Regions from separate parts of the Homo sapiens genome. Here regions 2 and 3 are each linked to region 1. The links come from fine-mapping of genetic effects on gene expression. A gene starts in region 1. Each other region holds a variant in brackets. All regions are shown on one strand. Distances are between the middles of the regions.

Region 1 (10,060 bases):
ACAGATAAGGAGACTGAGGTTGGACAGAGACAGAGATAGGCACGCCGTCTCTGGGAGAGGTACGGGGGTCCTCACCTCCACGAAGACAAAGCAGGGGATGATGGAGAAACTCCTCTTCAGATGCGGTCTCCCTCCCGCCATGGTGAAGGCCAGGCCTGCAGAGGTGGGGAGGGAGTGGGAGTCCCAGGGGGTGTGCCTAGGGGAAGGCTCAGGTCACCGGGACCCTGGCTTCATCCCCTGAGTCCTTTGGCCACACCCCTGGCCCTGAAGACCCGGGGAGGCCCTGACTCTGTCCCTTGAACCTTCTGGCCATGCCTCTGCAATCCAGGTCCTGCCCTGTTGGTCCTGACCCTACTGGGGACACCTGCCTCCTCTGACACCACTCCCCAAGAGTCTACGGGGGTCCCTTCCTTTACAGCCTACATGGGAGGCTCTGACCCAATGCCCTTTAGGAGGTGGGCCTTTAGAAGAGACTCCCCAGCCTCATGGGAACCCCTCCCCCATGGCACTTAGAAGGGTCCCCACTAGTTTTTAGGGGACACCATCCTCTTTCCCAAGGGGCCCCCATCCCTACCAGACCCTTCCCCTGAGTCGCTTCCTCCATGGCCTCTGCAGGGGCCCCTCTCTCTGTCCCCATGGGCTGTGGTGTTGGTGTCTGGTTGGGCTGATAGCCAAGCCCTCCTTCTCTGCCAACTGCCTCTCCCTCCTTCCCCCTCTTCCCAGCCGGTCTGCCTCCCAGTTCTCCTCTTCCCTCCCCCAAGGCTACCCCCAGTCCCCAGCGCTTTAGGGCTCAACACAGTCACACCTGCTTGCATCCATTCTCCCAGCCCCATCTCACCTGTGAAAGCGCCCTATGGCTTCCCCCAGGCTGCATCCACGCCTGAAGACTCACAGCCGCTCCTGGCAGCCAGCAGGGCAGGGATGGTCACCCCCATTGTGCAGATGTGGAAACTGAGGCCCAGGCAGGCGAGGGTAGGCACTCTGGGTCCAGCACCCCAACCACGACACTCACTCTGCAGTGTGATATGGGGTGATGGTTGCCAGAGGTCCTAGATACCCAGAGTCACCCATGCTGTCACCCTTAGGAAGCACAACCCAGCCGCAGCCTCCATCCTGGCACCACACACACACACACACACACACACACACAACCATGGCATAGCGTTCACCCATCCCACAGTGAAGACCGAGCACCTGCCGACTTCCAGGCGCTGTGCTGGGCGCCACTTTGCAGTAAACAAGAGGGGCCCCCTTGTTCAGACAGGTGTCCAACACACACAACACATGTCACTGCATACTCACACACAGTGGGCTCATAGCCTGTCAGAGACACCAAACAGATCAAACAAGTCCCCACCCCCACCCCAGGCCAAACAGAGAGAGACATGTCAGGAGACCCTACACACATCACAGTCCCACACAAGCCCCCACACCGCTACAGTCAGGGACACACAGTCAGGCCTGCAACACACTTAAGAGTCACAGAAAAGAGTCACCGCACACAATGGGGGTCACAGAACTCATCACAGCGTCACACCCCCAATTACAAGGCACTCAGCGACAGCCACACACACACTAACAGTCTCTTATTCACACCAACAGTCACAGGGGAGAGACAAGGTGCCATCTACAACCACATGGCCACATCCATGGACCATGACACAGACTCACAATGCCACACAAGAAAGGTGCACAGCGCACGACCACAGCCACACACACATACACACCATCAGAATGAACACACAACAGGAGCCACACAATGACAGTCCTATGCACACAACCACACGAACACCAAGACAGTCACACACAGAGACAGCAGCCACACGGGGGGCCAATGGCAGTCACAGCATAGCCAGACACACACACACAAACCATCAGAGTGACACCCACAACGACAGCCGCACAATGACAGTGACACACACACACACACACCCGCGGACCTCCCGAAACCACACAATCCCAGTCATGCAGCCACACGATGACAGTTACACAACCACACACAGACACACAATGACAACCACACAATCACAGTTACCCACAGCCGCCCTCACCACCGGTGCTGGCTCCTCGGCCCGGGGTCCCCTCCCCCAGCCCGGTCCCCTCCCCCAGCTCGCCGCCTCCCCTCCCCCGCCCCTCCCCGCGCTGGACCCAGAGGGACCCAACCCTCAGGAACCGGAGACCGACACCGGGGGTGGGAAGCCCACGGGAGGGGATGAGGGGCGCCCCCACCCCCTCCTCTCACCGCGTCGAGGCCGCCGCCGCCTGAGCCCCCGCTCCGCCTAGACTGCCCCGGCGCGGCGGGATGGACAGACGGACTGCCAGCCAGGCTGGCAGACGCGAAGACCGAGACGCGGTCGGCCGGGCCTGGCCGCGCCGCGCAGACTCCGAGGTGGAGGGAGGGGCGGGGCCTCCGGGCGTCTCATTTGCATAGCCCCGTGGGGCGGGGCCTCCGTGATCTTGGAGGCGGGGCGTGTTAGCATCGATTGTAGGAAGGAACCAAGAATGGAAGTAGAGAGGGAGGACCCTGGGGTGGGCGGGGCTCCGAGGGTAATAGGAGGGAGGGGCTTCAGAGTATGTCCCTGGGCCGCGCCTCTCCCTCTCTGGGCCTCAGTTTCCCCATTCGCCAGGGCCCCCCAGAAAGGAAGGCTCTGTGGCCAGTGTGGAAGTCTGTCTGGCTGCTCGTGTCTGGACAGAATGACTCCTTGCCTTGTCATATATTAAATCTGGCTTCAGATGTCCCCTGATTCCAAGCCCACACATCCCGAATGACCCCTGGGGTCTCTACACCCCTCCCCCCCAACAATGAGGGGTAAACTAGGAGGGCAGGGGGATTCCTAGGCACAGGAAGCAGCAAGACTAACAGTCGGGGCTAGAGGAGGGTCTGGGCTAGTTTATTTTCTCTCTGGAGGGGTCTTCAGGGAGAGCAGTCCCGGCTGCTCAAGCTGTGGAGAGAGAGGGTGGGTCAGGGCCTGGCCAGGTCCAGGGGACTCCGGGGCTGCAGGTCAGGGACCGCATGCCCAGATCAGGATCTGGGCCTGTTCTGAGGGTCTAGACTGTGGGAGTCAAGGGCAGGTCAGGAGGGAAATGGGTGGAGGGGGGGACTGGGGAGGATCTGCACCGGGTGGGAAGGAGCGGCCGCTCTTGCTGAAAGGTGGCTGGGAGAGGTCCTGGTCACAGTCGGAGTCAGAGTCCCAGGAGGGGAGTGGAGGGCTCAGGCACTGGTGCCCCTTGTGGCCTGCAGGAGGGACAGGTTCCCTGAATGTGACCCTCAAGTAACCCCCAAATATAGGCCCTGTGTCCCTTCATAGTATACCTCATTGATACTTAAACCATGACCCCCAATTCCCTTGAATGTGATCCAGTGTGACACCAAATTATGACTTCAATGACCCTTGCATTTTACCCAATTGACACTTTTTTTTTTAGAGATGGGGTCTCGCTCTGTTGCCCAGACTGGAGTGCAGTGGCACGATTATGGCTCACTGCAGCCTCAACCTCGCAGGCTCAAGCGATCCTCCTGTCTCAGCCTCCTGAGTAGCTGAGACTACAGGTGTGCTCAGCCACAGGTGCACCATCACCCAGCTAGTTTTTAAATTTTTTGGAGAGATGGGGTCTCACTGTGTTGCCCAGGCTGGTCTCAAACTCCTAGACTCAAGTAATCCTCCCACCTCAGCCTCCCAAAATATTAGGATTACAGGCATGAGCCACTGTGTGGAGTCCCCATGGACTCATATAAGATCCAAGTGACTCTGAATGTGACCATGAATGACTCCTGGATGAAACCTCCAGTGACTCCTTAATGTGACCCCAGAACACTACTTAATGTGACCATAGAATAACACCCATCAGATGTGACTCCCAAATAGGCTCTCTGAACATAGCCTCCCTGTGAAGCTAGACAATGACCTCCCACCCCTGAGCAATTCTCAGCCTCCCTCACCTCTTAGGCTCGAGGCCTTGGGACAGGCCCCCGAGCACAAAGTGAGGCTGTCTATGGAGTTCTGCAGCACGTGCACAGCAGACCTGCAAGAAGACAAGGAGCTGGGGGCGCTGGGAGACTCCACACTGCTCAGGGTGTAGACAGCAGTACAGCTAAGGTTGGGGGCCGTGGTGGGGTGAGTCCTAGGGGGTGAGGGAAGTCTGGACTCAGGTGGGCTCCAGGTTCTGGTGGTCACTGCCAGATCCCGTTGGGGGAACGGGTTCAGAGGAGGGTCAGGGGTCAGACTGCAGGCTGGGCATCACCATATATCACTCAGTTCCTTCTGGAGGTCATCCTTCCAGCAGCCACTGGCTCCCTGCGGTATCTCTTCAGTCTCCGGACAGGCGGCTGTCTCATGACCCTGCTGCTTCATCTTGGTCAGGATCTGGGGTGGGGAGGGATGAGAGAACAGCAGTCATAATAATAATGACAATAGTGCCAGGCGCGGTGGCTCACACCTGTAATCCCAGCACTTTGGGAGGCCGAGGCGGGCAGATCACGAGGTCAGGAGATTGAGACCATCCTGGCTAACACAGTGAAACCGCATCTCTACTAAAAATACAAAAAGTTAGCCGGGCGTGGTGGCGGGCGCCTGTTGTCCCAGCTACTCGAGAGGCTGAGGCAGGAGAATTGCTTGAACCCAGGAGGCAGAGGTTGCAGTGAGTTGAGATCGCGCCATTGCACTCCAGCCTGGGCAACAAGAGGGAAACTCCGTCTCAAAAAAGAAAACAAAATAAATAATAATAATGATAATAGTAAAAGGTGACTGTTATATAGCACTTGTTATATGCCAGACTGCATTCAAGTGCACAGTACTCAGCTAATACAGACACCTGATCAGGTAGGGAGGAGTGTTTTTTTTTGTTTTGTTTTTTGTTTTTGTTTTTGGTGTTTGTTTCTTTTTTGAGACAGGGTCTCAGTCTGTCGCCCAGGCTAGAGTGCAATGGTACTATCAGGGCTCAACGCACCCTGAACCTCCAAGGCTCAAGTGATCCCCCTACCTCAGCCTTCTGAGTAGCTAAGTCTACAGGCATGTGCCACCACACCCTCTTGTTTTTTTTGTTTTTTGTAGAGACAGGGTTTTGCCATGTTGCCTAGGCTGGTCTTGAACTTCTGGCCTCAAGCAATCCAACCACCTCAGCCTCCCAAAGTGCTGAGATAACAGGCATGCCACAGCACCCAACAGGATGAGTTTTCTTTTTCTTTTTCTTTTTTCTTTTTTTTTTTTAAGATGGGAGTTTTGCTCTTGTCGCCCAGGGTGGAGTGCAATGGCACGATTTCGGCTCGCTGTAACCTCTGCCTCCTAGGTTCAAGCCATTCTCCATCCTCAGTCTCCTGAGTAGCTGGGATTACAGGTGCCTGCCACCACACCCAGCTAATTTTTGTATTTTTAGTATAGACGGGGTTTCATCATGTTGGCCAGGCTGGTCTCGAACTTCTGATCCACCCACCTCAGCCTCCCAAAGTGCTGGGATTACAGGCGTGAGCCACCGCGCCCAGCCAAGATGAGTTATTATTACATCCATTATACAGATGAGGAAACTGAGGCTCAGAGAGGTCAAGTGACTTGCCCACAGTCACACAGCAGTGAGTGGCAGAGCTGAGATTTGAACCCAGGCTCCAATCTCATGGTGGAGGCTGGCCAAAATCCCCATCCCTCCCTCTCCCACTCCTCCCCAGGGTCCCCATCTCCTCCACTCACTTTGCGGCATTTCACCTGCGTTTTCTGCATTTTCTGAATGTTCACCAAGTTCTCTGAGATCTCATCCTCCTGCGCTTCTGTGGAGGGAGGGGGCTCAGGCGGACAAAGGCTGAAGAAGGACCCCCTCCCCACACACCGGCTGTGGGCTCCAGGAACTCACGGAGCTTCTGATAGATGAAGGTCACCTCCTCCCGCACCAGTTCCAGCTCCTCCCACAGGAACTTCTTGCTGAGGGGACAGTGCAGCCTAGACCTGCACTCCCTGCCTGGCCCCTGACCTCCCATGCCCCTATCTGTGCCTCCACCCATCCCCGCAAGCTCTGTCCCCTCCCCACACTTCCCTGCCCTTTTCCCCTCCCCTTCTACAATCCCCCTACCCTCATCCCCCTCCTCTCCTTCTGATCCCCAGCCTCCCATTCTCTCAGTCTCTCCCACCCCACTCAGCCTCCTATCACCTGGCCTCCACCTCCCCACCTCCTGTCCCCCGACTTTCTATACCCCCAGTCTCCTGTCCTCTCAGTCTTCCCTGCCATCCCCCTTTCTGATCCCCTGGCCTCCTTTTCCATCCCACCTCCAGCTTTCTGTCTTCCCTGCCTTCTGGCCTCTCAGTTTCCCACTCCCCCGCCCCCACCAGCCACCTGTCTCCCCTGAGCCTCTCATCCCCTCCTCATTTTTTTTTTTTTAGACAGAGTCTCGCTCTGCCGCCCAGGCGCCCAGGCGCCCAGGCTGGAGTGCAGTGGTGCGATCTCAGCTCACTGCAACCTCTGCCTCCTGGGTTCCAGTGATTCTCCTGCTTCAGCTTCCCTAGTAGCTGGGATTACAGGCACCCGCCGCCATGCCTGACTAATTCTTGTATTTTTAGTAGAGATGGGGTTTCACCATGTTGGCCAGGCTGGTCTCGAACTCCTGACCTCAGGTGATCCGCCCATCTCGGCTTCCCAAAGTGCTGGGATTACAGGCATGAGCCACCACACCCGGCCTCATTCCCTCTTCTTGTCCCTCAGGCTTTCCACCATCCCTCAGTCCCCCTCCCCCAGGCATCTGCCATTTCCCCCATCCTGCCTCCATTCCCCAGTTCTGGGTCTCCCTTCCCTCCTGTGGACTCCAAGCTGCCCTCCCGCCATCCCCGACCTGTCCCGGATCTCCTGGGCCAGCAGCTGCAGGCAGCGAGTGGTGCGGGCCCGCTGCATCTCCTCACTGTCACGCAGGGTCTTCTCCAGCCCCTGAAGGCCTTGGGTCAGGGCCCCATACAGCTCCTGCCGGCCCTGCTCCATGCCCCACTTGTGCTCCTCCTTCTCTCCCTGGCGGCCTGTGGGGCTCAGCACCTCTGCAGAGAGTGTGGGACCTTGACTGAGCCCTGATCCCACCCTGAACCCAGCTTGTCCTAATCTTGACCCAGAACCCAGACTCTCCCAATTTCCCTCACCCTGGCCTGGCCCAGCTGATCCCAACAGGACCAGCTTCCAGCCTGACTTTTTTTCTTTTGAGATGAAGTCTTGCTTTGTTGCCCAGGCTGGAGTGCAGTGGCGTGATCTCGGCTCACTGCAACCTCTGCCTCCCAGAAAGCAATTCTCCTTTCTCAGCCTCCTGAGTGGCTGGGACTACAGGTGCATACCACCACGCCTGGCTAATTTTTGTATTGTTAGTAGAGATGGGGTTTCACCATATTGGCCAGGCTGGTCTCGAACTCCTGACCTCAGGTGATCCACCTGCCTCAGCCTCCCAAAGTGCTGGGATTACAGCCATGAGTGACAGCACCTGGCTTTTTTTTTTTTTTTTTTTAAGTAGATATGGGGTTTCACCATGTTGTCCAGGCTGGTCTCAAACTCCTGACCTCAAGTGATCCAACCTCTTTGGCCTCCCCAAATGCTGGGATTACAGGCGTGAGCCACCACGCCTGGCCTAGCCTGACCTTGATCTCTGGTCAGTCCTCACCTTCAAGCTGCTGAATCTTGATTTGCTGCAAGCAGCTCTCCTTCTCCAACATGGTCACTGAGTGGTTCAGGAACTCGAAAGCCTGGGGGAAAGAGGTCAGCCTTGGGGTGGGAGGAAGGAGGGGAGGGCAAGGAGAAACAGAGGTTGCTGGGGGCAGGGCCAAGGTGGTTCACCTTGGTCTGGGCCTGTAACTGGCTCTTGAGTGACTCAAGTTCACATCGCAGGAGCTTCTGGGAGTCGGGAATCATCACAATGGTCTTGGCTGTGGGCAGAGAAGAGGGTGAGCCAGGGCTGTAAGGGGTGGGGTCTGGGGCAAGGGCAGGGCAGAGGTCAGCAAAGGCTCAGAGTAGCAGTAGGGACAGGGGATAAGATATAGAACAGGGGCCCACTCAGCCTTGGGCAGGAGTGAATGGGTGACCATGGCAGGGGGACAGCTGATGCTGGGGCAGAGGGTAGAGGTAGAAACCAGCAGGTCTTCCCCACACAGTTTTGTTGGAAAGGAGATTTCTCACCTTTGACTTTGGAAGAGCTGGTCTCCAAGGGCTTCTAAGGAAGAGAGATGAGATGGGAGTAGAAATTTGTCCCTGAGCTGCCTCCTTGCTCACCTCAACCCAGTTTTGAGGGCTGGACAAGAGTTGGATCTCCTCAGTTCTAGGTGTCCCAAACCGTAAGTGCAGGCAAAGCTGCACTCCAGGCATATTCATGCACCTCCCCCTTGGGCTACATATGCTCAGAAGTGCACTTATGTGGCTGAGAGACGATCACAGCCAAATCCCCATGGAAGACACACAACCACACTCTTTCCTTCCATTCATTCCTTCATCCATTCATTTAAGACTTGCTTAGCCAGGGCCTGCTGAGTGCCAGGTGCTGTTCTAGGTGCTGAAGAAACACAGTGGGTGCATTCATGGGAGTCTCTCTGCCTTACAGCCCCTTCCCTAAGCCCCACAGCAGTAGATTGCAGTGGTTTTCTGCATTGAAGGGGTTTCCCGGGTGGGGGTGACCTTAGCTACGTTGTGATGCCTCTTCAAAATGTCCTGGTCATTACAGCACTGCTTCTGCAGGTCTGGACTGGGGGAGGGGGCAGCCTCATGTGGCGAAGGCCCTGAGCCCCACCCTGGCCTGCAGTCTGCAGTCCTCACTGTGTCCCCAGAAGCAGGGCATCCCAAGGTCTCTGGCTCTGGAGTCCTGGACCAGTGAGCTGTACGCTCCAGAGCCTTGTCCGAGGAAGAGCCTAGGGGTGAGGGCTTCCTTGAGGGACAGTGCAGGGCACTCCTCACATTCCCAGCCCCTCCCAGTGTCCCCAGCCCTATGGGAGCCCCCTAACTAACCCCAGTACTTGTCACACTTCATGTTAGCAGGCAAACACATGCTGGAGGGTGAGGGAGGTGAGTAGAGGCAGGACACAGAGTAGTCAGGGTCCCGGGGTAGGCCGGCCAAAAGAGGGTCGCTGTGAGTAGGGAAGCAGGGGCTGCTTTGAGATAAGTCCCCATGTCCCCAGTGCCCCCAGACCCTCCCTGACATGCCAGAGAGGCCTCAGCCCTAAACTCAAGGCTTCTCAGTTATGGTAGGAGCCAAAGCTGGATAAAAGATGATCCCAAGGCCAGACGCGGCCAGCAATGGTGGCTCACGCCTGTAATCCTAGCACTTTGGGAGGCCAAGGCGGGAGGATCACTTGAGGTCAGGAGTTCGAGACCAGCGTGGCCAATATGGTGAAACCCCGTCTCTACTAAAAATACAAAAACTAGCTGGGCATGGTGGTGGGCGCCTGTAATCCCAGCTACTCGGGAGGCTGAGGCAGGAGAATCACTTGAACCCGGGAGGCGGAGGTGGCAGTGAGCCGAGATTGCACCACTGCACTCCAGCCTCAGCAACAGAGTGAGACTCAGTCTCCAAAAATAAAAAACAACAACAAAAAAGATTATCCCAGCCCCAAGGTTTGGGCTGGGCAGTGAGAAGGACCCAGAAGGCCCCAAAGAAAAAAAATCAGGCCTCAGAAGAGTCCAAAGAAAAAAGGGACCTTGACATTGGCTTAAAGGAAGGCCTTTCCTGGCAGGGAGCAGCATGTGCAAAAGCTTGGAGGTGTGGAATCACATGCTCTATGCTGGTAAATTCATGATGGCTGAATCGAGGTCCGAGAGGAAGCAGCAGGAGGTTAGCAGAGCAGCTCCAGTAAGGCATTGACGGCCAAGCCAGGAGTTTCGACCTGGCCCCACAGGTGAATGCCAGCCATAGAGTGTGAGCAGGAGAGGCAGGGCATATCTGTTCAATAAATGTTAGCTGAATTGGGGCCCAGACCCGTGCTAGAAGAGGCTGGAAACAGGAAACAGCTGAGCTCTGGGTCTCACATTCAACTCCCCTCCCCCTCCAGTATAGCCACATATGGCACAGATGGAGATATCTGGGGCAGGTCTGCCTGGAGAAACTTCTAGGTGAAAGGCACCT
Region 2 (10,185 bases), 58 kb after region 1:
GGCGTGAGCCACCGCACCTGGCCCTCTTTGCAATCTTTCACATGCCCTGGCATGAATGTGATTCTGCACACCAGCAAGTGAGTTCTTGAATAATTCCCAGAGATGGGACTGCCAGGTCAAAGTGCTGAAGCTTTTGTCATTTGGATGGATTTTGCTAAATTGTCCCTCTATTTTGAATACATTTCAAAACCCCAATCAATATGCAAACACTTCTGATCATCTCCCCTTCTCCTGCCACCAAACCCAAGAGGGATGAACTAAATGAACTCAGCAGGTTTTGTGAGGACTTGGAGAGGCAGGCTGAGGATTTCAGCTTCTCACACCATCAAAGGTGGCACGTGTGATGGGCCCCTCCATCACTGGGTCCCCACAATCGATCATGGGTGCCTGGCGGGGAGGGGCGGACTTCTATTGGTTCTATATCTTTTTTTTTTTTTTAACGGAGTCTCATTCTGTTGCCCAGGCTGGAGTGCAGTGGTGCAATCTTGGCTCACTGCAACCTCTGCCTCCCGGGTTCAAGGGATTATCCTGCCTCAGCCTCCTGAGTAGCTGGATTACAAGTGCGTGCTATCACGCCTGGCTAATTTTTTGTATTTTTGGTAGAGACGGGGTTTCACCATGTTGGCCAGGCTGGTCTCAAACTCATGACCTCAGGTGATCCACCAGACTCAGCCTCCCAAAATGCTGGGATTAGAGGCGTGAGCCACTGTGCCCGTCCTTGGTTCTTTATCTTTCTAATGCTATGTGGGAGGAGCAGGGCTGTACTTACAATTGGAAAGAAAAGAAGGACCACTGTGGCAGCTGTAACTTCCATGATGAGGACAATAACCATTGACAGGATGCACTAAAAGACACACGGGGAGAGAGGGCCTGGGAGCCTGCTCAGCCTCCTCCCGACCTTATACCCTGCAGGTGAGGGGTTGTCTCTGTTCCCCCGACCCTCCACCCCAGGCCACCCTGGCCTCTCCAGTTTAAAACAATTCGACCGGGAGCAGTGGCTCAACACTTGTAATCCCAGCACTTTAGGAGACCGAGGCGGGTGGATCACGAGGTCAGGACTTCAAGACCAGCCTGGCCAACATGGCAAAATCCCGTCTCTACTAAAAATACAAAAATTAGCAGGGCATGGTAGGGGTGCCTGTAATCCCAGCTACTCGGGAGGCTGAGGCAGGAGAATCGCTTGAACCTGGGAGGCAGAGGTTGCAGTGAACCAAGATTGTGCCACTGCACTCCAGCCTGGGCGACAGAGTGAAACCCTGTCCCCGCAAAAAAAAAAAAAATAGGTGACACCAAGCAAAGTTGTTTGCAACACGCACAATAAAAGATTTGTGTGTGTGGGGAGGCAGTTCTGGGGTCTGTGTGCAGATCCAACTTACAAACAAGAGCGTGCCTCTGCTCTCTTTAGTCGCTCCATACCACCCGGCACAGCCAAGCAGTACCGTGATGCATCCCATCACCAGGCACAGGTTGCCAACGTGAAGGAGGTATGCGGAGGACAGCCCGAGGACATTCGTCAGAGAGGCCCCTCCACATTTACCACCAATGCCCAGGCCAACTAGGATGATGCCAGACACCTTTAGAACAGAAACCAGAAAGGAAGAAAAGTAATCTGTTAGTTGTATACAAATAGAACTGGGTGAGTGCGGTGGCTCATGCCTGTAATCCCAGCACTTTGGGAGGCCAAGGCCAAGACTTGAGCCCAGGAGTTCAAGACCAGCTTGGTAAGACCTCATCTGTACCCTCTCCCCAACAAAAAAAAAATAGCCAGTAGTAGTGCGTGCCTGTAGTCTCAGCTACTCAGGTGTCTGCAGTGGGAGGATCACTTTAGCTCATGAGGTTGAGACTGCAGTGAGCTATGACTGTGCCACTGTACTCCAGCCTGGATGACAGATCAAGACCTTGTCTCAAAAAATAAAATAGGCCAGCCACAGTGGCTCACACCTGTAATCCCAGCACTTTGGGAGGCCGAAGCAGGTGGATCACCTGAGGTCAGGAGTTCGAGACCAGCCTGGCCAACATGGCGAAACCCTGTCTCTACTAAAAATACAAAAATTGGCCGGGCGTGGTGGTGGGCACCTGTAATCCCAGCTACTCAGGAGGCTGAGGCAGAAGAATCGCTTAAACCTGGGAGGTGGAGGTTGCAGTGAGCTGAGATCATGCCACTGCACTCCAGCCTGGGTGACAGAGCAAGACTCCGTCTCAAAATAAAATAAAATAAAATAAAATAAAATAATGTCATAGGACAGGGATTAGCAATTTTTTTTTTCTGAAAAACCCAGATGTTGTGGCCTCTGCAGGACTTAAGGTGTCTGTTGAAACTACGCAGTTCTATTGGTGTAGCCCAAAAGCAGCTGTTCACAATCTCCAAATAAGTGAGCACGGCCATGTTCCAATAACACTTTATTTTGTATTATTATTTTTTAAATAGAGATGGGGATCTCACTATAGCTGGTCTCGAGCTCCTGGCTCAATGGATCTGCCCACCTCGGCCTCCCAAAGTGCTGGGATTACAGGCATGAGTCACCACAGCCGGCCTTAATTCTCTTTAAAATGTTACAAGTGAAGAGGAGGAGTGATATTTCATTTCCTTCTCTTTCCTGGCAGCTTTTCCTTAGACTATGCTACAATGAAGACAATTACTTCTTTTTATGTTTTTATTCTTTTATTTTTTTATTGAGACAGAGTCTCGCTATGTTGCCCAGGCTGGAGTGCAGTGACACAATCTCGGCTCACTGCCAACCTCTGCCGCCCAGGTTCAAGCAATTCACATGCCTCAGCCTCCTGAGTAGCTGGGATTATAGGCACGTGCCACCACGCCCATCTAATTTTTTTGTATTTTTAGTAGAGATGGGGTTTCCCCATATTGACCAAGGCTGGTCTTGAACTCCTGACCTCGTGATCCACCCGCCTTGGCCTCCCAAAGCGTTGGGATTACAGGCATGAGCCAGCGCCCCCGGCCTGACAATTCCTTAGCAATGTACATTTCGGGTTACTTTTACGGTAAGGAAAAAAATGTGACAAATTTAAAAGATCAAGAAAATAACCCTTTCTCCTGGCCTTCCCAAACAACTTGGTCGGCTACAGGATTTGACTTAGAGCCAAGCTCTTCCATCACCCACCTGGGCTCCCCCAGATCACACTCATCTGTGCTGGATTTCACCAGCTCTCGGTTGATGGAGGTCCCCACGCTCCCTGCTCCTCCTCCTCCGTCTGCCCTACATCCCTCCTGCTTCTCCAGGGAACCACAGATCTCGATGCCAATTTGGATCAACTTATTTCTGTCTTTCAGGGAGCTGACTGTGGAGGAAGGGCTGCAACAAACCAGGGGCCTGGATTGTGACATACTTACAGCCACGAAGCCATTGAGTAAAGATAACAGTTTCTTCAAGGAAGAATACGGAGTGTGGATTTCAGCCATGCTGAACAGACTGGGGCACCCTGAACATTTAAGTTAACATCTTCCTGAACCTCTGGGCTACTGTTTCCCAAGATGATAGGGATCTGAGGAAGGGGCGCCAATGCTGACTTGCTCTGCCCCTCTGTGTCCTGGCTGCCTGATGGTTGTCCAAGGCGGCCCAGCAGCTGCCCCCTGCCCTGGTCATAAGCCTTTTATCACATCACAATTGGGTTCTGGAGCAAGGCTCATGGTCCAGGGAAATCAGGTGCCCCAAACTGCCCCCTGTTGGCTCCTCATCCTTCAAACAGGTCACAGCAGGGAAAGAGAACAGGCATGGTATGCTACCCTGGTACCCTCCAGATGCCACCAGGACCCTGTGGGCATAGTGCCCAGAGCTAACCACTTGCACAGTTGACATCTCCTAGTAGACTGGGGGATCCAAGCGGGGGAGGGGGGAACTTGGGCTGTCCTATTAACAGCTGTGACCCCTGCCAGGCGCAGTGGCTCACACCTGTAGTCAAAGCATGTTGGGAGGCGGAGACGGGCGAATCACCTGAGGTCAGGAGTTTGAGACCTACTAACAATACAAACAATACAAAAATTACCTGGGTGTGGTGGCACACGCCTATAATCCCAGCTACTTGGGAGGCTGGGGCAGGAGAATCACTTGAACCCAGGAGGTGGAGGTTGCAGTGATCTGAGGTCGTGCCATTCCACTCCAGCCTGGTTGACGGAGTGAGACTCTGTCTCAAACAAAACAAAACAAAAACAAAAACAGCTGTGTCCCCAAAGCCTGGCACTGCAGTACTTAAGAAACCCGCGGAGAATGAATGAATGGATCCAGAGGCTCTGTGATGCAGAAATCTAGCTACAAGCCACCGGGCCTCCCAAGCCCAAGCCCATACTTGGCCCATCCTTCATACAGGGCTCAGAGAGGCCAAGGGAACTGCCTGAGGCCACACAGGAAGCAAGACCAGGCTTTGAAGCCCCAAGAGTAACATGAGGGCAGGAACCTGTAAGGCAGAGAGTCCTGGAACTGTGAGCCATTGGTCACTGGGTTTTTTTCTTTTGAGACAGGATCTTGCTCCATTGCCCAGGCTGGAGTGCAGTGGTGTGATCATGGCTTACTGCAGCCACGACCTCCCTGGCTCAAGTGATCCTCCCACCTTAGCCTCCCAAGTAGCAGGTCATTGGGCTTTTCTCCATGGTGATAGATGTAGTTAGCATTTCAGGACCAAAAACCTTCTGTATGTCAGCACTGAAGACCTCCAGGCCTAGATCCTGCAGTCTGTAGCCCACTTTGCCCCCATACCTCCCCACCCTAACCATAGCAGCTTCACATTGCCCCACCCCGATCCCCTCTCTGTCCAGCCCTGGGCTGGGGTGTGTCTGGGTCCAGGTCCTGCATGGATTGGGGGAAGGCGGATGGTTCAAATGGGAGAAAATACCTTACACTTTAATTAATTTAATGAATGTCTGTCAAATCGCCTGCTTCTTGGAACATGTAGAACTAAGCAAGATGTTCACAGAGGAGTGCTGTCTCCTCCTGGACCACGGGTGCTGTTCACAGCCAGGAGTGTGTCCTTCCACACCTTTATTTAAGAGGTCATTTGAAGCCAGGCGCGGTGGCTCACGCCAGTAATCCCAGCACTTTGGGAGGCCGAGGTGGGTAGATCACGAGGTCAGGAGATCGAGACCATCCTGGCTAATGCAGTGAAACCCTGTCTCTACTAAAAATACAAAAAATTAGCCGGTTGTGGTGGCGGGTGCCTGCAGTCCCAGCTACTCGGGAGGCTGAGGCAGGAGAATCTCTTGAACCCGGGAGGCGGAGGTTGCAGTGAGCCGAGACCACATCACTGCACTCCAGCCCGGGAGACAGAGGGAGACTCCTCCGTTTCAGGAAAAAAAAAAAAAAAAAAAAAAGGTCATTTGAAGTAAGGAACCTCAGAACCAGGGGCTGAGGGCCTGGAAATGGGGGCACAAAAGAGGGTGATAAATGGGCATGCAAGAGAGCATTGGAAAATGTAGGGGGCAAAGGAGGTCTGGGAAATGTGGACTCAAGGGAAAGCAGGAAAATGGGGGTGCAAAGGAGGGTGCAGAGAAGGGGGACGCAAAGATGCGAGATGGAAACTTGGCTGCAAATGAGCAGTGGGAAAACGGGCTTAAAGGACGGTGGGAAAATGAGGCTCAGATACAAGAGAGCTGGGTGAGTAGCAGACGGCGCTGTAGACGTGGGAGCAGCTCCTGGAAGGAACTGGCCGGAAAGGAATCTGGGCCGGCTGCACGCAGCCCCGCCCCTCGACCGCCCCAGCCCCTCTACCCTCCCAGCTTCTCTGCAAAGCCGCATCTACAGCCTCGCGCGTCTCCTGGCGGCGGCCCGTGGAAGCGCGGCCCTACGTGCCGGGGCTGGGCCAGGACTCTCCCTGCCAAACACGTCCAAATGTGCCCGGGTGCCCCAGGGACCCCGCCCAGCCGGTCAGCGTCAGGAAA[T/C]GAAGCAAGAATAACTTCCCGTGCCCCAGATTCCTACATCACACACCCACGGAACTTTGCAGGCATCCGACGAATTGCAAATGCAAGATACTTGCTTTTTTTTTTTTTTTTTTTTTTTGTAGAGACGCGGTCTCGCTATGTTGCCTGGGCTGACCTCTAAGTCCTAGGTTCAAGCCATCCTCCTGCCTCGGCCTCCTAAAATGCTGGGATTACAGGGATGAGCCACCGCGCCCGGCCAGGACGTTTAATATCATTGTCAAAATCATAGAAGGGCCACTCCAATACACCCTTATGGTGTGTTGAGACATTTATTTCTCCACATGCTTGGTCTCCTTTTTTATTTTTAGGGGATTAAAATTGTTTAATTTTTAATTATGTGGGCACATAGTAGGTGTACATATTTATGGGGATGGGAGATATTTTTTAAAAAGCACAATTAACCAGCCGGGCGCGGTGGCTCACGCCTGTAATGCCAGCACTTTGGGAGACCGAGACGGGCGGATCACAAGGTCAGGAGATCGAGACCATCCTGGCTAACACGGTGAAACCCCGTCTCCACTAAAAAAAATACAAAAAAAAATAGCTGGGCGTGGTGGCGGGCGCCTGTAGTCCCAGCTACTCGGGAGGCTGAGGCAGAAGAATGGTGTGAACCCGGGAGGTGGAGCTTGCAGTGAGCCGAGATCGCGCCACTGCCCTCCAGCCTGGGCGACAGAGCGAGATTCCGTCTCAAAAAAAAAAAAAAAAAAAAAAAATCACAACCAAAAAATGAAATGTGTTGAATACAATCACACACAGAATATTTATGTCAACGACCCATATTAGTCAACAAACTCTCCTCTTTTTTTTTTTTTTTTTTAATTTTCAGACGGAGTCTTTCTCTGTTGCCCAGGCTGGAGTGCAGTGGTGCGATTTCGGCTCACTGCAACCTCTGCCTCCCAGGCTCAAGCAATTCTCCTGCCTCAGGATCCTGAGTAGCTGGGATTATAGGCGCAACGCCACCACGCCCGGCTAATTTTTGTATTTTTAGTAGAGATGGGGTTTCACCACGTTGGCCAGGCTGGTCTCAAACTCCTGATCTCAAGTGATCCACCCCCCTCGGCCTCCCAAAGTGCTGGAATTACAGGCGTGAGCCACCGTGCCTGGCCTGAACTCCTCTTCTTAAATTCATGTGTTTGTTGTCAAGGGCAACAATTGGGTGTTTGGGAGCACTGAACAACAAATAGTGAATGAATGAGACCTGAGCTTGCGCCCACCCTTCAAGGTCAGAGAGGAGCGCGGCAGTAGGTTCGCCTGCTCACTTGTTCATGTAAACTTTGCGGCAGAAATGTATTTGTTTACGCCTCACAAAACCTAGATCCATCCTTGACAAAGGGGCATTTTATGGTTTCAGGTATTTTAATAGCCATCGTTGGGGAAGGAGGCAAATCAGAATCCACCATCCAAAAAAAAAGTCTGGGACACACAAAAGAAAGGTGTCTGTCCTTGCAGAGGCTGGTCCACACCTTTGGCATCAGTCACTTGTTCTAGGAGTTCCCAGGTTGTGCACCTCAGCCCTCACTGGGGACAAGCACAGAAGTGTCACCAAGTTTCAGCATCAGGGGCTGACGTCATTGTGGCAGGAGAGGAGCATGATGGTAATCATTGCTACCAAATGAAAAAAAAACAAACAGCATTTCCACCATTAGGGATTTTTTTGTTTGGCTGGTTGTTTTTTAAAATTGCATTTGTTTCCCCATGTTCACATTCTGCCTTAGGGTTAACACTTTGTGCTCTGTATGGTGGGTTGGGAGGCACTGAGGAGTGATCAGAAGACCCCTGTCAGGCCAGGCACAGTGGTTCACACCTGTAATCCCAGCACTTTGGGAGGCCGAGGCGGGTGGATCACCTGAGGTCAGGAGTTCAAGACCAGCCTTGGCCAACATGGGGAAGCCCCGTCTCTACTAAAACTACAAAATTAGCTGGATGCGGTTAATTACAGGTGGGCACCTGTAATCCCAGCTACTCAGGAGGCTGAGGCAGAAGAATTGCTTGAGCTGGGGAGATGGAGGTTGCAGTGAGCCGAGACCGCACCACTGCACTCCAGCCTGGGCGACAAAGCGAGACTCTGTCTCAAAAAAATAAAATAAAATAAGAAGACCCCTGTCCTACAGGGACACTCACTGCTTTCCCAGTTCCTCTCTCTTGCTACATAAAGAAAGATCTGCAATTTCTACCCCTTCAGCTACCTTAGCTTCTGGCTGGAAAAGAGGGAAGTGAAATTAAGGAGAACCAGGAGATGGGTTTTTGTTTGTTTGTTTGTTTTTTGAGACAGGGTCTCGCTTTGTCTCCCAGGCTGGAAGTACAGTAGTGTGATCTCAGCTCCCTGCAACCTCACCCTCCTGGGCTCAAGCGATCCTCTCGCTTTGGCCTTTAGAGTAGCTGGGACCAATGGCACGTGCCACCACGCCCGGCTAATTTTTTTATTTTTTGTGGAGACAGGGGTCTCGCTATGTTTCCCAGATTGGTCTCGAACTCCTGGGCTCAAGCAATCCTCCTGACTTAGCCTCTCAAAGCGCTGGGATTACAGGTATGAGCCACCACACCCAGCCAAGATCCTTGATAATATTAAAAATATTTAGTATATAAGGTATACCCAGGCAGTGATGAGAAGGGAGGGTTTCAGGGGTATCAACCTTGAAGGGTTAGGAGGACTGGAGGGTCCTGATGAGAGTTCAGGAAGCAGCGAGTGGCCCCAGACCAGTGCATGCAGGTGACACATCTCGAGGGGGCTTCTGTTCTTGTTAGCATGGGGGATCGGGTTCTAATTCCCTCTGTTGTCTGGGCAGCTGGTCCCAGGGTGGCCAAGACTGTTCCCATCCCATATTCCTCAAGTATCTCACTTAAACACATTGAAAAGGTTGGCCAGGTGCAGTGGCTCACGCTTGTAATCTCAGCACTTTGGGAGGCCAAGGCAGGCGGATCACTTGAGGTCAGGAGTTTGACACCAGCCTGGCCAACATGGTGAAACCCCGTCTCTACCAAAAATGCAAAAATTAGCCGGGCATGGTGGTGCATGCCTGTAATCTCAGCTACTCAGGAGGCTGAGGCAGGAGAATCGCTTGAACCCGGGAGGCGGAGGTTGCGTTGAGCCGAGGTCTTGCCACTGCACACGCCAGCCTCGGCAACACAGTGAGACTCTGTCTCAAAAAAAAAAAAAAAAGACCTCATAAATAGCTTTTGGAGATTTTATTACAGGCGGACCTGTAACAACCGCAAATGGACTTTTAAAACCTTGTGGGGAATGTTTCTCCTTCTAGGAATTCCTACTACAGATTTATTCAAATGCACATAGGCCAAGAGCTGGCAGATTTTTCTGGAAAGAGCCAGAAAGTAAATATTTTCAGCTTTGCGGACCATACCGTCTCTGTTGGGACTCTGCTATTGCAGCCATAGAAAATATGTAAATGGACAATATGTAAATATATGTAAATGAACAAGTGTGACTCTGTCAAAATAAAATGTTATTTATAATATGAGATGGTTTTGTTATTTACAAAAATGGGTGGCAGAATGTAGTTTTGCTAATGCCTGCTCTTAAGCCTCGCTTGACTTGTGAATGATTGGAAACAACAACTTAAGTGCCCTTTGTTTTTGTTTTTTTGTTTTTTTTTTAGACGAAGTCTCACTCTGTTGCCCAGGCCGAGGGCAGTGGTGCAATCTCAGCTCATTGCAACCTTCATTTCCTGGGTTCAAGCAATTCTCCTGCCTCGGCCTCCCCAGTAGCTGGGACTACAGGCATGCCCCACTATGCCCAGCTAATTTTTGTATTTTTGGTAGAGACAGGGTTTCACCATGTTGGCCAGACTGGTCTCGATCTCCTGACCTCAGGTGATCCACCTGCCTCGGCCTCCCAAAGTGCTGGGATTACAGCCGTGAGCCATCGTGCCCGGCCTTAAATGCCCTTTGAAAGTATTAGTAGCTGATTAAGTATAAGATTGTCCAACTAGAGGAAAAGATGCTCAAAAGCTGAGAAAATGAATGCAGAAATCTTTGTTGCTTTTTTGCAGACTGGATCTCACTTTGTTGCTCAGGCTGGAGTGCAGTGATGTGATCATAGTTCATTGTAGCTTCAAACTCCAGGGCTCAAGTGATCCTCCCGCCTCAGCCTCCTGAGTAGCTGAGACTACAGGCACACACTACCGCACCTGCCTTTTTTTTTTTTTTTTCCATTTTTGGTAGAGACAGGCTCTAGCAATGGTCTTGAACTCCTGGACTCAAGTGATCTGGCTGCCTCAGCCTCCCAAAATCCTGGGATTACA
Region 3 (7,328 bases), 28 kb after region 1:
CGGCTCACTGCAACCTCCGCCTCCCAGGTTCAAGTGATCCTCCTGCTTCAGCCTCCTAAGTAGCTGGGATCACAGGTGTGCACCACCATGGCCAGCTAATTTTTGCATTTTTAGTAGAGACGGGGTTTCATCATGTTGGCCAGGCTGGTCTCAAACTCCAGACCTCAAGTGATCCGCTCACCTTGGCCTCCCAAAATGCTGGTATTACAGGCGTGAACCACCATGCCTGGCCTTAATTTTTATATTTTCTTTAGAGACTGGGTCTTGCTATGTTGCCCAGGCTGGTCTCAAACTTGTGAGCTCAGGTACCCACCTGCCTCAGTCTCCCAAAGTACTGGGATTATAGGCTGTCTTAATACTTTTCTGTAGTTTCTAGTTTCTCCAGTAAATTTCTCTATTGAATGACATCCAAAAAATGTATTTTTTTTCCTTTTTAAAATTTTTATTTGTTTTAGAGACAGGGTCTCCCTATGTTACCCAGGCTGGTCTTGAACTCTTGGGTTCAAGTGATTCTCCTGCCTTGGCCTCCTGAGTAGTTGGGATTACAGGCGCATACCACCACGCCTGATTAATATCAGAAAAATAAGCTGGGCACGGTGGTTCATGCCTGTAATCCCAGCACTTTGGGAAGCTGAGGCAGGTGGATCATCTGAGGTCAAGAGTTCGATACCAGCCTGGCCAAAATAGCGAAACCCTGTCTCTACTGAAAATACAAAAATTAGCCTGGCATGGTGGTTCACACCTGCAGTCCCAGCTCCTTGGGAGGCTGAAGCAGGAGAATCGCTTGAACTCGGGAGACGGAGGTTGCAGTGGGCTGAGATCGTGCCGTTACACTCCAGCCTGGGCGACAAGAGCAAAACTCTGTCTCAACAAAAAGAAAAATAAAGAACACAGATGGTATGAGGCAAAGCCACGCGTGGATAAGGAAACACCAGATTTGCCCAGGAAGACAGTGGGATGGCTTTGATATCTCTGGGCTGACAGTAGGAGATCTAAGTTCATGTCCTGCCCCTGCTATTGTTCATTTACCCATTCATTCATTCAACCATTCAGCAGACAGTTTCTAAGCACCCTCTCTGTGTCGGGCACTGGGTACAGCCATGGGCGGAAATCCTGCCTGCCTGGAGCTGGCTTTCTAGTAGCGGAGACAGATAATAAATGGGTAATTACACAGCTAACTCATTATGATTCCATTTTCATAGTTCAGCATGACGCACAGAGAAGACAGGTCCACTTACCCTTGGCCACGTGTAACGTGGCAGGCGTTTGTCTGAATTCCTGGCTTACCTTGGTGATGTGGCAGGTGGGGCTGCATGGAGATTCAGGGACAGCTCCTCTCAGGCAGACCCTCAGGAACCTTAAAAGGATGCAGGAAGCCCAGCGTGGTGGCTCACGCTGGTAAACCCAGCACTTTGGGAGGCCTAGGCGGGGGGATCGCTTTAGGCCAGCAGTTCAAGACCAGCCTGCGCAACATAGCGAGACCCCCACCTCTACAAAAGAAAAAATTGAAAAATTAGCCGGGCATGGTGGGGCACACCTGTAGCCCCAGCTACTCAGGGGGCCAAGGCGGGAGGATCGCTTGAGCCCAGGAGGTTGAGGCTGCAATGAGCCATGTTCATACCACTACACCCCGGCCTGGGCAATAGAGAGAGACCGTTTCTCTTTTAAAAAAAGCAATGGAAAATGTGACTTGATGGGTCTCCTGACCATGCCTTTCTGTGCAGCAGAAATTGGGTGGAAGCTGAGCTATAGCCACCTGTGGGCACTGCCATGGCCGCAGGGCAGCAGAACTCTTCATGTACCCTCCCACCTATACTCTTGCAGCCACTGCCTTGTGACAAAGAGATCTTAGGATTGTCCAGACCATGGCTGCAGCCGCAGGGTTTCGTTTTGTTTTGTTTTTGAGACAGGGTCTTGCTCCATCACCCAGGCTGGTGTGCAGTGGTGTGATCATGGCTCACTGCTGCCTTGACCTCCTGGGCTCAAACCATTCTCCTGCCTTAACCTTCCGAGTAGCTGAGACTGCAGGTGAACGCCACCATGCCCCTCTATTTTTTTTTTTTTAATAGAATCTCGCTCTGTTGCCCAGGCTGGAGTACAGTGGTGTGATCTCAGCTCACTATAACCTCCGCCTCCCAGATTCAAGCAATTCTCCTGCCTCAGCCTCCCGAGTAGCTGGGATTACAGACGCGTGCCACCATGCCCAGCTAATTTTTTGTCTTTTTAGTAGAGATGGGGTTTCACCATGTTGGTCAGGCGGGTCTTGAACTCCTGACCTCAAATGATCCTCCCGCCTCGGCCTCCCAAAGTGCTGGGATTATAGGCATGAGCCTCCTCACCTGGCCGCCCATCTACTTTTTAAAAAAATTTATTGTAGAGATAGGGCCTTGCTATGTTGCCCAGGCTGGTCTTGAACTCCTGGCCTCAAGCGATCCTCCCGCCGTAGCTTCCTTTAGTGCCAGGATTACAGGCATAAGCCCCTGCGCCTGGCCTGCCACAGATTTTTATCATTGGTAGGATCATCATTCCCATTTTACAGGTGAGCAAACTGAGGCTTGGAGTGGCAAAGGCACACAACCAAGGTCCCACAGCAGGATAAAGAGCAGAACTAGGCTTAGAAGCCAGGTTTCTGTGATGCCACAGCTGAGACTCTGCCCTCAGGGGTCTTACGAGTGTCCCCACCTTAACATTCATCCAGGTTTCGAGTTCTTTGAAGCCAGTGCCAAGGAGAACATCAATGTGAAGCAGGTCTTCGAGCGCCTGGTGGATGTCATCTGCGAGAAGATGAACGAGTCCCTGGAACCCAGCTCCAGCTCAGGCAGCAACGGGAAAGGCCCGGCCGTGGGGGATGCTCCAGCCCCCCAGCCCAGCAGCTGCAGCTGCTAGAGATGGCCCCCAACCCCCCACCCACCCCTCTCCTGCCTCGGCAGGGACTGTGATCGAGGCGTGAGCCACAGTGGTTATCTCCAAGCTCAGGGCAATCCCTTCCCTCCTGTCAACTGCTCCCCGACTCCTGCATGGCTCATTCCTTCACAATGTCGCCGTGGCTGCCAGGTTCCTCAGGCAGCCCCGGTGGGAGGCTGCGGACCATGGGGACTCAGCTCTGCATGGCAGGCAGAGGCCCAGGGACACTGACGTGCATGAGCTTGCTGCTTTCCAGGGTGTGTTGAGGGTGGCCATGGGTGACACGTCCCACTCTTTCTGATGGAGGGGCATCCGTGGTGCCTTCTAGCTTAGAACCATTTTCCAGGTCTCTTCTGGGTTGGGCAGGACTGATATTCCCAAGCTGGTGGAAGATGGTTCATCTTCCTCGCACAGTGTGGGTTCTTGGAGTTCATCCAGGGAAGGCGGCGCCTCTTTCTCAGGTCCTGCAGGCTGGTCTCTGAGCCTGCCCCCACGAACTTTCTGGATTCCAAGGTGGGATGGTGATCCCTTTGACCCCTGCAGACCCTCTACTTGCGAAAAGCAGCATTGAAGCAGCCTTTTCCCATTGTAGAAGGGACAGGGAGTCAGATCCCCTCAACCCCCCGGCTTCAGGGACCCCAGAAGTGCCTTCCAAGCTTCCCCCAAGATCCACATCACCCACGACCCTGCCACTGTTTTTGCTGTGTTCACCACATCTCTGATCCTGAAGTGAATTCTGGAACTATGGACCACATTAGACTGGGCAGAGATTCGCCCAACCCCTAGCACTCCGGCTCTGGGCTTTCGGCCAGAAGTTAATTAACCTCAGAGCCAGGAGCCTGGGGCTGGGGCCTCCCTCCCAGGCCCTGTTTAGCTGTTTAGCTGGTTGTGTTTTAAGCAAGTTCTTGCCCAATCATGCATCCTGCTAGAAAAGGAAATGAAGCAACGTTCCCAGCCACCGCAGGCAGTTGTCGGCGACTTTCTGATGTAAGCACCTGGGCTCCGACTTGAGGGGGGCCCTTCAAGACCCAATGTCCATTTCCCAATCCTTGTCATCGGCAGGGCCCAGGGATGTGACAATTTTTGCTAATGGAGGAGTCACTTCTTTTTTTTTTTTTTTCTTTTTGAGATGGTCTGGCTCTGTCACCCAGGCTGGAGTGCAGTGGTGCAATCATAGCTCACCACAGCCTCAAACTAGGGGTCACTTCTAAGGGATGCTGGGGGTTGGGCGGAAGGGGTGAGGAGGTAGGATTGAGTAACTTGCTGTCACTGCTTGTACTTTGTAGACAGCCTGAGAGTGGCAGGACCTTATGTGAATGGGGGGGATGGACTGTGATCAGTGCCGGGGAGTCTCTGAAGCTGGGGTCCCCACCTCCAGGGGCTTCTGCTCAGAGGTTACGTGTGCAGTTTGAAGATGTACATCTTGACCTCCGGTTTAGAGGCACTTTCTGCCCATCAGATTCCAAACTCTAGGGGCGCAGCACCTTTTCTTTGCTCCCAAACACCAACCAACACCCCTTCACAGGACCAGCACTGTTAGGATGGCTAAG[T/C]GGATGTTTTATGTTCCCACGTCCCTGACTCTGTTTCAGAGGTTGTGTCTGCTCTCCCAGCCCCTGAAGCCAAAATGACTTCCTGCAGCTTTCATGAGCTCAGCCTCTTCCCTGGGGTATGTGTGAGGGGGAAAGCCTGGTTCAAGTTTAGATTTATTTCTAGGGAGCCCTGGTTTCTTCATACCAGAGGCTACCCTTAGAACTTTGGAGTGGGGTATCTTTTTTTCATTTGTTTTTTTGATACAGAGTCTCGCTCTATTGCCCAGGCTGGAGTGCGGTGGCACAATCTCAGCTTACTGCAACCTCCACCTCCAGGGTTCAAGCGATTCTCCTGCCTCAGCCTCCCGAGTAGCTGGCATTACAGGCACCTGCCACCACACCCGGCTAAATTTTGTATTTTTAGTAGAGAAGGGGTTTCACCATGTTGGTGAGGCTTGTCTCAAACTGACTTCAAGTGATCCACTTGCTTCGGCCTCCCAAAGTGCTGGGATTACAGGCGTGAGCCATCACGCCCAGCCGAGGGTATCTTTTATACCAACAAATTAGATGACTGAGGTGTAATGGACAAATCCTATGCACAAAGTGAGGGTATCTGAATATGTGGGCGGGAGTCAAAAATTTTTAGCTACTTTAACACTAAAGTCAAACTAAAGTAGCTTCAAAAAGACTTCTCAAGATGCAGTATGGCCTGCTGAGGTTTTTTTGTTTTTTTTTTTTTTAAGACAGAGAGTCGCTCGTCGCCCAGGCCGCAGTGCAGTAGCATGATCTCAGCTCACTGCAACCTCCACCTCCCGGGTTCAAGCGATTCTCCTGTCTCAGCCTCCTAAGTAGCTGGGACTACAGGCACCTGCCACCACGCCCATCTAAGTTTTGCATTTTTAGTAGCGACGGTTTCACCTTGTTGGCCAGGCTGGTTTTGTTGGCCAATTGTCTCTAAACTGCTGTCAAAAAAAGGAATGGATCAGATTGTCTTGAATAGGGCAGAGCTAACCTGTAATCACCTGTGTGATGAGAAACAGCTTTGACTGCATTTTACTCCTGACCTGGCCTAAGCTTTCTGTTTACATAAGATTTTTCAAGAATTCAACTTCAAGTAGCAGCCGAGAGAGCTGCCTCAGGATTCTCTCAAAAACTGGGAATAATATGGGAACATTTGTTTCTTCTAAAAATAAGGCAAATGTTACATTGAATGATTTGGGGGGTGAGGTTTAATTGGAAATGGTCTCTGGGGACTGAAAACTGATGTTTTTGCAGATTACCTCAGGGAAACGGAGGTTTGTTGAGTTTACAGACACATTAAACCAAAGGCCGTGGGAAAACCCCTCTCCAGCTCCAGGGGATTGGTCAGGACCACCCACTAACCAGTGCCTTCCTTCTTAACATTCACTTTTAGCAGCTTGTGTTTATTTTACATGGGCAGTTTTGATGGGAAATTGCCATGACCACAGGGGTTTGGAGTTCTGCTTTTTTTTTTTCTTCTTCTTTTTCGGGGGACTGGGGGACTCCTCCCAAGATCACATTTTAGCATCTTTCTCTCCTACTCCATTTAGAAAAATAAGTAACAGGTGAAATGTGGTCTCAGTGTTAACGGGATAATTCTGCTACCGGCTCCTCCCTGATGATTCTGAAATACACTACTGAACGAGCTCTGGCTGGTCCTTTCTATCCTGGATGTGGTTCTTCTGTGTAGCAATTCCTTGATGTCCAGTTTGGAAAGATGTACTCTTCTCAACAAGAAAAACTTAAATCCGTCGTGCCCAAATATAGTTGTGCTTTTATTTCCATTAGTGAAGTGCGTTTCTGGGAAAGGGGGTTTGATTTGCAACTAAGCAGATATCAGTCAAGGGCTCTTCAAGACACAGCAGAAACCTCACCGGGCCTCGGGCTGCCTCCCACTGGGTCCCATGGCCACCACCTTGACCTTGGAAAGCTCTGTTATATGGAAGGTAGGGAGGACACTATTTCCCTCAACTACTTCTAGTAAAAAGCTCAGTTCTCTCCCCAGCAGCAAGAGGGCACCTGTGAACACCTGAGTCACAGCGCATTCCTCCTCTGCTTAGAACATTCGATGGCTCCCACCTTACTTGCAGTAAATGCTGAGGTCCTTCCTGTGGCCCCCGGGGCCCTGCATGATCTGATCCATCCCTTCCCTACCCTCATCTCTCCACTGGCCTCCCCACACTTGCTCCCCTCCGGCCACTCTGGCCTACTTGCTGCTATCTGAACATACCAGGCCCCTGCCCCAAGGCCTTTGCCCAGAATGTTCCCCCTGCCTCTGCCTGGATGGCCCTTACCCAAGGTAGTCACAGTTGATATGGTTTGGCTTTGTGTCCCCACCCAAATCTCATCTGGAATTGTAATCCCCATAATCCTCACGTGTCAAGGGAGAGACCAGGTGGAGGTCATTGAATCCTGGGGGCGGTTCCCCCATGCTGTTCTCCTGATAGCAAGTGAGTTCTCACGAGATCTGATGGTTTTATAAGGGATTCTTCCGCCTTCTCTCGGCTCTTCTCCTTCCTGCCACCTTGTGAAGAAGGTATCTGGCTTCCCCTTTGCCTTCTGTTATAATTGTAAATTTCCTGAGGCCTCCCCAGCCATGTTGAACTGTGAGTAAATTAAACCTCTTATGTTTTTTTGGGTATTTTTTTGTTTTTTTTTTTTTGAGACTCAGTCCTACTCTGCCACCCAGCTGGAGTGCAGTGGTGCCATCTTGGCTCACTGCAACCTCCGCCTCCCAGGTTCAAGCAATTCTCCTGCCTCAGCCTCCCGAGTAGCTGGGATTACAGGCACACTCCACTACGCCTGGCTAATTTTTGTGTTTTTAGTAGAGACGGGGTTTCACCACGTTGGCCAGGCTGGTCTCGAACGCCTGAC

The links.
Region 2: its variant is fine-mapped to the expression of PLPPR2 in whole blood (TOPMed, PIP above 0.99). The same link has a PIP of 0.9 or more in blood mononuclear cells and monocytes.
Region 3: its variant is fine-mapped to the expression of PLPPR2 in whole blood (TOPMed, PIP 0.98).

What each region holds. Positions count from the first base shown.
Region 1 is chr19:11,347,755-11,357,814 of GRCh38, reverse strand. PLPPR2 (phospholipid phosphatase related 2) reads right to left here and starts at 2,383. Exons shown (of 10, transcript NM_001393892.1): 1 at 2,243-2,383; 2 at 839-1,013; 3 at 76-155. The coding sequence starts at 141. It overlaps CCDC159 (coiled-coil domain containing 159), which reads right to left. Exons shown (of 11, transcript NM_001080503.3): 2 at 8,128-8,161; 3 at 7,789-7,877; 4 at 7,616-7,697; 5 at 6,812-7,007; 6 at 5,842-5,909; 7 at 5,682-5,758; 8 at 4,243-4,364; 9 at 3,941-4,023; 10 at 3,119-3,235; 11 at 2,871-2,942. The coding sequence ends at 2,938. RefSeq lists enhancers at 530-1,471, 6,845-7,345 and a silencer at 2,114-2,563.
Region 2 is chr19:11,289,531-11,299,715 of GRCh38, reverse strand. TSPAN16 (tetraspanin 16) reads right to left here and starts at 3,556. Exons shown (of 7, transcript NM_001282509.2): 1 at 3,350-3,556; 2 at 1,377-1,574; 3 at 770-844. The coding sequence starts at 3,418. RefSeq lists enhancers at 522-1,021, 1,022-1,523. The variant T/C (reference allele first, on the strand shown) is at 5,888.
Region 3 is chr19:11,320,956-11,328,283 of GRCh38, reverse strand. RAB3D (RAB3D, member RAS oncogene family) reads left to right here. Exons shown (of 5, transcript NM_004283.4): 5 at 2,699-6,216. The coding sequence ends at 2,886. TSPAN16-AS1 (TSPAN16 antisense RNA 1) reads left to right here and starts at 6,959. Exons shown (of 3, transcript NR_187778.1): 1 at 6,959-7,060. It also overlaps a transcript of TSPAN16 not described here. RefSeq lists an enhancer at 3,827-4,036. The variant T/C (reference allele first, on the strand shown) is at 4,455.